Linked DNA regions of Homo sapiens: region 2 is linked to region 1. Evidence: fine-mapped expression QTL. A gene starts in region 1. The other region holds a variant in brackets. All regions are shown on one strand. Distances are from middle to middle. Region 1 holds the start of POLR3A (RNA polymerase III subunit A). Region 2 overlaps LOC105378379 (a long non-coding RNA gene).

The links.
Region 2: its variant is fine-mapped to the expression of POLR3A in hypothalamus (GTEx, PIP above 0.99).

What each region holds. Positions count from the first base shown.
Region 1 is chr10:78,027,341-78,032,706 of GRCh38, reverse strand. It overlaps POLR3A (RNA polymerase III subunit A), which reads left to right and starts at 3,192. Exons shown (of 31, transcript NM_007055.4): 1 at 3,192-3,343. The coding sequence starts at 3,300. RefSeq lists an enhancer at 3,023-3,272.
Region 2 is chr10:78,705,872-78,711,252 of GRCh38, reverse strand. The region is part of intron 1 of LOC105378379 (a long non-coding RNA gene); the gene reads left to right. Among named protein-coding and RNA genes, the nearest start is that of ZMIZ1-AS1, 360 kb to the left of the region's middle. The variant G/T (reference allele first, on the strand shown) is at 2,092.

The sequences.
Region 1 (5,366 bases):
TTGCACTCCGCCTGGGCAATAAGAGCGAAACTCCGTCTCAGAAAAAAAAAAAAAAAAAGGAAAAAAAAATTGATTGCTCCAGAAATATTTTCTTTAACGTGAAACAGACATGTAAAGAATGTAAATATATATGTTCCGGAGAAATAATAAGAAGAATTTCCCAAATGTTAGTGCAGACGAGGTGTCCAAGGTGCAGGCTTTGCGGGCAGCTTTCCTATTTTCTTTTTTTTTTTTTCCTGAGACAGAGTCTAGCTCTTGTCACCCAGGTTGGAGAGCAATGGCTTCATCGCGGCTCACTGCAACCTCGACCTCCCGGATTCAAGCGATTCTCCTGGCTCAGCTTCCAGAGTAACTAAAATTACAGGCCTGCGCCACAATGCCCAGCTAATTTTTGTATTTTTAGGAGAGACGGGGTTTCACCATGTTGGCCAGGCTGGTCTCCAACTCCTGACCGCAAGTGATCCGCCCCCGCCTCGGCCTCTCAAAGTGCTGGGATTATAGGCGTGAGCCACCGTCCCCGGCCGACTATTTTTCTTTTTTTTCGTTTTTTGTTTTTTTTTTTTTTTTTGAGACCGCATCTCGCTCTGTCACCCAGGCTGGAGTGCAGTGGCGGGATCTCGGGTCACTGCAACATCCGCCTCCCAAGTTCAAGCGATTCTTCTGCCTCAGCCTCCCGAGGTGACCAACTATCCTTATTCTTAAGAAAATAGTCAGCCGGCTGGGCACGGTGGCTCATGCCTGTAATCCCAGCACTCTGGAAGGCCGAGGCAGGCAGATCACGAGGTCAGGAGTTCAAGACCAGCCTAGCCAATATGGTGAAACCCCGTCTCTACTAAAAATACAAAAATTAGCCAGGCATGGTGGTGCGCACCTGTAGTCCCAGCTACTCGGGAGGCTGAGGCAGAAGAATATTTATTGAGTGATTGTAATGTGCCTGTTACATTCTAATTACTTTTACCTTCATTTTGCTATTTAACCTTCCCATTGACTCTAAGAAATAGGATACATATTACTCACCCATGTTATAAATGGGGAAACTAACACACAATAAGATTAAATAACTTTCCCAAGTTCACACTTTATATACGTGTATATATACACGTATGTGTATATATACACATATATCTATATCTATATCTATATATATATATATATATATTTTTTTTTTTTTTTTTTTTGAGGCAGAGTCTTGCTCTGTTGCCCAGGCTGGAGTGCAGTGGCACAATCTTGGCTCACTGCAACCTCCGCCTCCCGGATTTAAGCGATTCTCCTGCCTTAGCCTCCTGAGTTGCTGGAATTACAGGAATGCGCCACCACACCAGGCTAATTTTTGTATTTTTTAGTAGAGACGGAGTTTCACCATATTGGTCAGGCTGGTCTCAAATTCCTGACCTCATGATCTGCCCACCTCGGCCTCCCAAAGTGCTGAGATTACAGGCGTGAGCCACCGCGCCCGGCCTGCACAACTTTATTTTTTATTTTTTTTTATTTTTGAGATGGAGTTTCACTCTTGTCGCCCAGGCTGCAGTGCAATGGCATGGTCTCGGCTCACTGCAACCTCCACCTCCCAGCTTCAAGCGATTCTCCTGCCTCAGCCTCCCGAGTACCTGGGATTACAGGCGCACACCACCAACCCCAGCTAATTTTTGTATTTTTAGTAGAGATGGGGTTTCACCATGTTGACCAGGCTGGTCCCGAACTCCTGACCTCAGGTGATCCGCCCACCTTGGCCTCCCAAAGTGCTAGGATTACAGGCGTGAGCCACCACGCCTGGCTGCCTACACAACTTTAAATGGTGAAAGCTAGACTCCCATGATGGCACTGTGATTTCATAACTTTTGCTCTTAACCTCTAGATAAGTCACACACGATCCAACCCTTGTTGGTATAATATTGTAAACATCAGAGCCGGGTGTGGTGGCTCACACCTGTAATCCTATCACTTTGGGAGACTGAGGCGGGCGGATCACGAGGTCAGGGATTCGAGACCAGCCTGGCCAACATAGTAAAACCCCGTCTCTACTAAAAATACAAAAATTAGCTGGGCGTGGTGGCGGGCGCTTGTAGTCCCAGCTACTCGGGAGGCTGAGCCAGGAGAATCGCTTGAACCCGGGAGGCGGAGGTTGCGGTGAGCCGAGATTTCGCCACTGCACTCCAGTCTAGGCGACAGAGCGAGACTCCGTCTCAAAAAAAAAAAAAAAAAAAAAACAAAAAAAACCCATAATGTTGACTATATATATATATATATATATATATATATAGTCAACATTATTTCATGATTAAGTGATGGAGTACCGAAATGAGTTAGAAAAACCTGATATGCCTCGTTTGTCTGTGACATTGTGTTTTGCTAGTGAGGATCCATGGCGTCTGAAAATGAGATAGCGTCCCTTCTTAAAAATTGAAAGTTGTTAAACACTTTTGTTAAGTTCTGTTTTGAGTTTCTCACAAATAATGAGGACTTAGTTCTAATTCTAAGCGCTAAGCCCTGTGGTGATGTGATTTCCTTGCTAGGCTCATGCACTAATATATCACACTAGGATCACCTCCCACAAGTTCTCACAGACTGTAGACAACTTATTTCAAGACATGAATGATCTTTACTTTCCATTCTCCCTTTTCTTCTGTAGATTACCATGGCTGTTTTCACTCTAACAGATTTTCAACTGTTTTTGTAATCAATAATGTAAGTTTAATTCTTCCCCCCTCCCTCCAAATAACTTCATGAACTGGAGGCACATGTGCGCCCATATTTTCCGCTCTGTTTTCCTTTGTTGGTCCTCCACAGATAGTGCCCTCTGTTGGATGGGCCGGTTCATTTTAGCTTCCACCTTCCCTTAAAACAATTAGAAGCTCTTAATTTAGATGGTACTGATGTTAATGATGATGATTTTCCATTTTATGCAAGTTTTGGCCCTCTGCTTGTCTAAAAGCCTTGAGGCAAAGAGTTATATGCAGTTTCTCTGCGGGTGTCTGATTACGTGGAGAAATTGACCAGAAATGGGATTTTTAAAATACAGCACACGCCTCGGTGCGGCTTCCAGTAAGCGCCACCAGGTGACGGTGCGGGGAAAGGGAAAAAAAAAAAAAAAAAAGGCATGCCGGAAGTCTCTCTTGACAGACAGACGCGCGGGCGAGTAGCGGAAGAGGAAGCGGACACGTGGGACACTCTACGGTGGCCGAGAGGATGCCGCAGATGTGTTAGCGGCGAGTCCAGAAGCAGCCCCAGGAGGTGCTGGGGGCATCGTTTCTCTAATCTGGCCTCCCGAGTGCCAAGGAGGCGTCCCGGCAGCGGTCATCATGGTGAAGGAGCAGTTCCGGGAGACGGATGTGGCCAAGAAAATGTAAGACGGAGTAAGAGTGGCCAAAGGGCTGAGAAATAGGGCAAGGGGTCCGAGGTCAGCGGTCCCGGGTCTTGCAGGGTCAGAGATGGGGTGCAATGGGAAGGGGAGGGCCAGTAGTCCATAGGTGTGACCAGCGCCCAGAACTACCAGCGTTGGTCAAAGAGCATTGGTCAGGCTGAGGGGATTTCAGCACCTCGAGAGGTCCCTGGACTTGGGCGGAGAAGTCGGAGTGGCCTGAGCCTTAATGATTTGTGCACCCTGGGCCAAAGCTCGCATTCTCCTGAAGTCATACAATGATCCCTGTTCTTCAGCGAACTATCCCCTGCTGCAGCGAGGGGAGCAATCTGGGGCGGGGACTGTCTCTAATTCTGTCAGCCGCAGAGCGTCTGACACGGAGGCAGTAGTTGCTTACCAAAAGGATGGGGTTGCCCACTAGAAAGCTGTACCACAGGCCGACGGATGGCAGTGTCAGAAATAAAGCTGCTATCCGGACTTTTGCCTTCAGAAATACGTTATTAGGCGGTGGCTCCTTCTTAGAGTTCTCGGTAAGAAAGTGAATCCAGCCGGGCGCGGTGGCTTACTCCTGTAATCCCAGCACTTTAGGAGGCCGAAGCGGGTGAATCTCCTGAGCTCAGGAGTTTGAGACTAGCCTGGGCAACGTGGCGAAACCCCGTCTCTATCAAAAATACAAAAATTAGCAGGCGTGGTGGCGCGCCCTTGTGGTCCCAGCTACTCGGGAGGCTGAGGCCGAAAAATCACTTGAGCCTGGGAGGCAGAGGTTGCAGTGGGCAACCTCCTGCATTCCACCCTGAGTGACAGAGTGAGACGGTGTCTCAAAAAAAAAAGTGAATTCATCATTCTTACAGCAGACACTGAGGAGGATACTGCGCGTTATTCCCAGTGTTGGACGTTAAAGATACGGTCTGAATAAAACTTTTACTGCCTAATCTAGTTGGAGAAGGTACACAAGTCAACACTGGGTACGACAAGTGCAATGACAAGGGTAGGTCCAGGGGGTTTTGAGAGCACATAATGGGTCCAGGCAAAAGAAAGCAGACCAAACTGCTTTTTTCAAGGAGCAGACCTGAGGGAGAGAACACAGGTGATCAGAAGGAAGCAGAAGACTTGAAGCTGTGTTAAGAAGTCATCTTGTAGGCAGTGAGGAACCTTTGAAGGATTTTCAACAGGAGAGTATCTTGATAAGAGTTCTCCTTCTGGAAAATCTCTTGATTCATGGTGGAAAGAATTAGAGGTCGAGAGACCTTGAGACGGATATACAGAATGCCTTGCTTGGGCAGCTGTGTGGATGGTTGCCATTCACTAGAACAGGTGTCTTACCTAGGTGAATGCAGCATTCTCCCATGTGGTAGCTCTACATCGACACTGGCCCTTCACACCCACCTGTACACCTGCGCCCAGTCAGATATAATACATTCTCACAAAACAGAGAAAGTGCTTCTGTCAAAGTGCAAATTAAGGGTATTGTCAATTAAAATCCTCTAGCAGAGGCCAGGAGTGGTGGCTCACGTCTGTAATCCCAGCACTTTGGGAGGCCATGGCAGGCAGATCATGAGGTCAGAAGTTCAAGACCAGACTGGCCAATATGGTAAAACCTCATCTCTACTAAAAATACAAAAATTAGCTGGGTGCGGTGGCGCATGCCTGTATGCCTGTAACCCCAGCTACTTGGGAGTCTGAGGCAGGAGAATCGCTTGAACCCAGGAGGCAGAGGTTGCAGTGAGCTGAGATCGCACCACTGCACTCCAGCCTGGGTGACAGAGCAAGACTCTGTCTCAGGGAAAAAAAAAAATCCTCTAGCAGCTTTCCATTGTGTGGGCCATCACGCCTAGCAAATTTTTTGTATTTTTAGTAGAGACAGGGTTTCACCATGTTAGCCAGGATGGTCTCAATCTCCTTGCCTCGTGATCCACCCACCTTGGCCTCCCAAAGTGCTGGGATTACAGGCATGAGCCACCGCACCCGGCTGCATTTATGTTATTTAAATAAATTCCCTACCAAAGTT
Region 2 (5,381 bases), 680 kb before region 1:
AACATCAGATCTCATGAGACTTGTTCACTATCATGAGAACAGTATGGGGGAAACCATCCCCATGATTCAATTATCTCCACCTGGCTCCCTCCTTGACATGTGGGGATTATTAAACTTCAAGGTGAGATTTGGATGGGGACACAGCCACACCATATCAAGGAGAGAGGCCCAGGTCAGATAGATAGATGTAGTGCCAGCAGCCTGTAAATAGCCACTGGGAGGCAGAGATGTTTGAAAGACCAAGAAAGGGGTGAAAAGAAAGAAGAGGACACAGAACAAAGCAGCAGTGGTTAAGCAGCAATAAAGCAAACCGTAGAGTGTATATTGTGCCTATGAGGATGGCTTCAGCTACAAGCAGCAGAAAACAAGTTCTGAATGGGCTTGAACAATAAGGCACAGTCATTGCCTCCCATGCTAAGTCCGTGGGCTGGGGTTTGCAGGGTTGGCTGATTTCATGTCTCTATGCCACCATCAAGGATCCAGGTGCTTTCCAGATTTTTTGCTCAGTGAGCTGACTTAGTCCTGCTTGTTCCCCTCACAGCTGCAAGATGGCTTTAGCAGTTCCAGGTATCATATCAGACATGAAAATCTCCAGCGGGGAGAAAGCACCATCTCCTCCTGGGTTCTCTTCTTTAATACTGAGAGATCCTTTCCAGAAGCCTGCAGCAGACTTCCCTCATTGCATGTGCCCATCCTAATCTCATCACTGGTAAGCGGAGTGGGAATTCCATGTAGTATTCTCCAAGAGTGGCCACAGACCAGTGGTACCAGCAGCACCTGGGGACTCTGTAGGAATGAGAATTCTCTGGCCCCACCCCAGACACACTGAATCAGAGTTGCTGGGGTTGGGGGTTTCTAGCTGATTCTGGTGCAGGCTAAAGTTTGGGAACCTCTGCCCTGGAAAAGTCAAACAAGCCAACAAACAAAAAAGCCTGAATTGGTTGGTGCTAATATGTCTCGGCTAAGAAAAGCTCAGCAATAGCCCTTATGCAGTCACAAAATAAAACCCCACTTTTCTTCACGAGGCTTTCTTGGCCATAGCCTATCTTTTAGCTCCAGCCTCCCCCATATCCCTGGCATCTCTTTTTCCCTGGCTGTGTAGAACCTTGATTTCATGGATTTATGCCTTTGCTAGAGTTCTGGCCCATCCTGTTCATCCACTTATCCTTCAAGGTGAATCTTTCCTGAGAACTCCACCCTGACTCCCTGCAACAGGAACCAGGGATCTTCCCCTCTCCTGTGAAACGCTTAAATGGCCAAACCACATACTGCATCATCGTGATATGTCTCTCTGTCTGGGACTCAGCTTCTGGGGGCAGAAACACCTGCTCTTCTCCTCATAACCCAGCTCCTAGGGCAGTGCCCAGCACTAAGCTAGCCCATACTGGAGGTTACTTGAATGAATGAAGTTCCCCTAGAAATAATGTCTTTCATCTGTGTACCGTTCACCCTCCTGAGAATAAAAAGCCCTATACAAACAGTGGCTCATAAATAAGGCATCCGAATGGCCACCAAACACCTAAACTTATGTCAGGAATTCCAAGGCCAAGAGCTTAATTGTGAACATCAGAAAAAACAGTATTTGATCCTGGCTCTGCTTGGTTACTAGCTGTGCAACCTTGGGCCAATTGTCTAATTTTGCTAAGTATTGCTATTCTCATCTGTAAGTTGGGAATATTAATAGCATCCAAATCAGTCTTATGATAATGTGAGTTGAGGCGCTGATATGGTTTGGCTGTGTCCCCACCCAAATCTCACCTTGAATTCCCTTGTGTTGTGGGAGGGGCCAGGTGGGAGGTGACTGAATCATGGGAGCAGGTCTTTCCCATGCTATTCTCGTGATAGTGAATAAGTCTCATGAGATCTGATGGTTTTATAAAGGCGAGTTTCCTTGTGCAAGCTCTCTTCTCTTGTCTCCTGCCATGTGAGACATGCATTTCACCTTCCACCATGATTGTGAGGCCTCCCCAGCCACATGGAACTGTAAGTCCATTAAACCTCTCTCTTTTGTAAATTTCCCAGTCTCGGGTATGTCTTTATCAGCAGTGTGAAAACAGACTAATACTGGCACCATGCTTGCCATATAGTAAG[G/T]CTCTAAAAATGCTGGCTCTTATTATTATTGGTTTCTGACAACCGTTCAAGTATTACAAGCAAACAGGTGCGGCGACTTGGTCAGTTCTGGTTTCAGTTGCCTCATTTCTAGGAGGCAATCAGCAGAAGATGATAAGGGGGCTCACATAATGTGGCTAGAGGCTTCTGAAGCTGCCTGATGTAGCCAGTTGGACCCAAATAAGAAATTGCAATGTGCTGCCCAAAGTTGTTCTAGGCAATCTCCTTGTGTGTGTGTGTTAAGGAAGAGAAGGAAAAAGCCACCAAGGAACAAAGACACCTGCTCTATGGAGACCCCTTCTGCCTGCTTGACAAGCTCTTCTTCATCCCTCAAAATGTAATCCAGACATTCTCTCTCTCCAGAAGCTGTCCCTGTGTCCTGAGTGGTCACTCAGCTTCAATGTCTCCTCTGACCCTGGTTCTGACACTTGCTTTAGCCTCATTGCACTGTGTGCCATGGTTGCTGACCCATCTGTCTTCAGCAGTAGACTATGAGCTCCCTGGGCCTAGCCCAAGGCCTGGCACAGAGGAGGGTGCAAAGTTGGTGGTCTTTCTCCTTCTCTAAGGAGTGTTATGTCTCTTTGGAGGAGCCTCAATTGACCTACAAAACAACCACAGCAAGCTTTCAGTATGGTACTTATGACCTCAGCCTGGGCTCAAGGGACCTCGATCCTGTCAGCAGTACCCTGTGGATGATGGGGCTCACAACCTGGGTGGTCAGAGGAGTTGGGCAGCCAAAGGATGAATGCATTTATGGTGGGATAGGAGTCGGCACAGCCAGGAGGAGAGGACAGCCCAAGAGAGGGCAGGGAAGGGACCCCCAGAATGGTGACAGCCTTGGCCTTGTGCCCCAGTGAGGCTGTCCCAGACTCTTATCACAGCCTCAGGACAATCAAGGCACCTATTCCTGCAACATCCCCCAACCCCATCCCACATGGCCAGAGCACAAATCCTAGTTAAAAATCCCCATGGACTTTGTTTACTGGGCTCCAGCTCTGGTTCTGTCATCAGCAGTTTGCATCTCTGATTAGCAACATTCTTATGATTTCTGTCCTACATCAGAAATGTAACGGCAATGTGGCAAGGATGGAGGTGGCCCCCCGCCCCTTCCCGTGTCTGAAAGCTTCCTCAGTGCTCAGTGGTGTTGCTGCTTGGGCATGTTAACTCTTCATCCTACAGGTCTGGACAGGGAGGGTGTGCATACAGAAGGAGGAAGGAGAACCAGGAAGGAGTTTCTTATCATGGCAGATCATAATATACACACCTGAACCTTTTCCTTAATCCTTCATGCCCTACCTCTTCCTTCGTTTTCATTTCTAATACTCATGGCTTACCCAAAATGCCAGAAGTCCATACTGCCATAAAAACCAAGAAAAGGAAACAGAAAAACAAGCCATTTCTTCTTTCTTATTAACTCAACAATCCCATGATCCACTGTATGTGTTTTTAGGGAAAGGATCACAGAGGTCAATCCACGTATCAGTGATCCTGATGTTTCTATCAAATGAATCATTTGAAATGGGATCTTCAGTTTATTTGAGCAGAATCACATCAGCGCTGTTCACAATGAAAAGTGTCTATGCCATGTGTTTGGATGTGAAGAAGTTTTTATCACAGCAAAAGTATAAAGGCTTGTATTACAACCTGGTAATCTCAGTGGCTTCCAGTTTTTGGCTTAGTTGGAGTCAACTTTGCTTAAAGAGAGGAAAACTATGTATAGCCAACCTAATAAATGAAAGTAGCCCAGCCCAGTTTCCAAGGTGGTAAAGCAATACACCCACAAGCCACAAAACCCCACTCTGGGAAAAAATGAGGCAGACTTTTGGCCTATCGTGCTTTTTATCCTTTTCTTTCCACCCCTCTTTCTTTCCCACACACCAGGGGGGTGAAAGACACCACGTCATTTGTACGGATCAAGCTCTCTTCTTGTAAGTTTCCAGTTAAACATTCTTTTGTAGCTGACACCTATTAATAATTTAAAGTGCTTGGTCTTTTGAACAATGATCAAAATTAAGCTATTACCCACAGGGGGATATTTACATACAGTTAGTCGGCAGCTGTTTAACAGCCTTTTCCATTCAAGATTTCTTGTGACCCTCTCTATCATTAGTAAGCAGAAGAATATTTGATGATTGTATGATTTTTTTCTTCTGTATATTTGATAAATGACCACTGGGAATCACTTAGGAAGTAAATAAGGTAATTCTTTGTGATTTCTGCAGGCTGCTGAAGTTATGAAAGAAGGGCAATTACTTTTAGATCCATCTACATGCAATTTACTAATAAGCCACAGAAGGCAGAAACATGTAATTAGTAATTACTATAGTATGTAGTGATTCGAGGCTTACCCAGTCAGTCTATGGGCCTATAATCTAGTAGGAGAAAATGAAATGAGTTAGTTCACAGAAGCAAGCCCCAGTATATTTAAAGCAAGTTGCTGACAATAAAACTAACTGATGTTTATAGAGACCATGGCAGTACATTGCGCGTTGCTACATCCAGCCTCTTGCCTGACCCCTACCCCTGGGCTGATGTAAAATAGCCTCCTTGCCTCCATTTTTAATGAGGGCCAGACTCAAAATGTGTTGAGGGGTTTCCTGAGATCACAGGCTAATGAGGGGTGGGCCTGGATCCTGAGCTTCAGGTTGCAGGCCCATTGCTGTCCACAGCATCATAATGTCACCTAGTCATGCTGCCAGATCGGTGACTCACATCCTAGGAGTCAGACATATACAGGACTCAGAAGCCAAAGGTGCATATTTATGATGGAGTTGAAGGCTGTGAAGAGAAGGAAGAAGAATAATGGACATGAGACAAGTGCCTAGTTTTGACGGAGGGACACTGGACATTTAATGCATATTATCTTCTTGACAATAGCTAAGCATTATTGTGCCTATATTACCTCCTATATTTACAGGAGAGGAAATCGAGCTTCAGTGGGGTCACTTGGTCAGGATCTCTCAAAGTGTTAAGTGGCGGAGCTGAACTATGACACTGAGTAATTCTGACTTCAATAGCAGCAATCTCTCTCCCTCACACCTGGTGGGTGTGACTCCTTATTCCAGCAAACTAAGTGTATCTTCATCAAGTATCTCAAAAAGAGTAATTTGGAGCAAATAAGCGAGCTCATAGATAGCAGGATCTTAAAGCTGACTGTTTTGTCCCAGAAATCTCAACTTTAGGAATCTATCCTAAAAAAAAAAGGCAATCCAAAAAAAAAAAAAAAAAAGAAACACTGCAGATAAGAGTTTATATGAAGAGATGTTCAACAA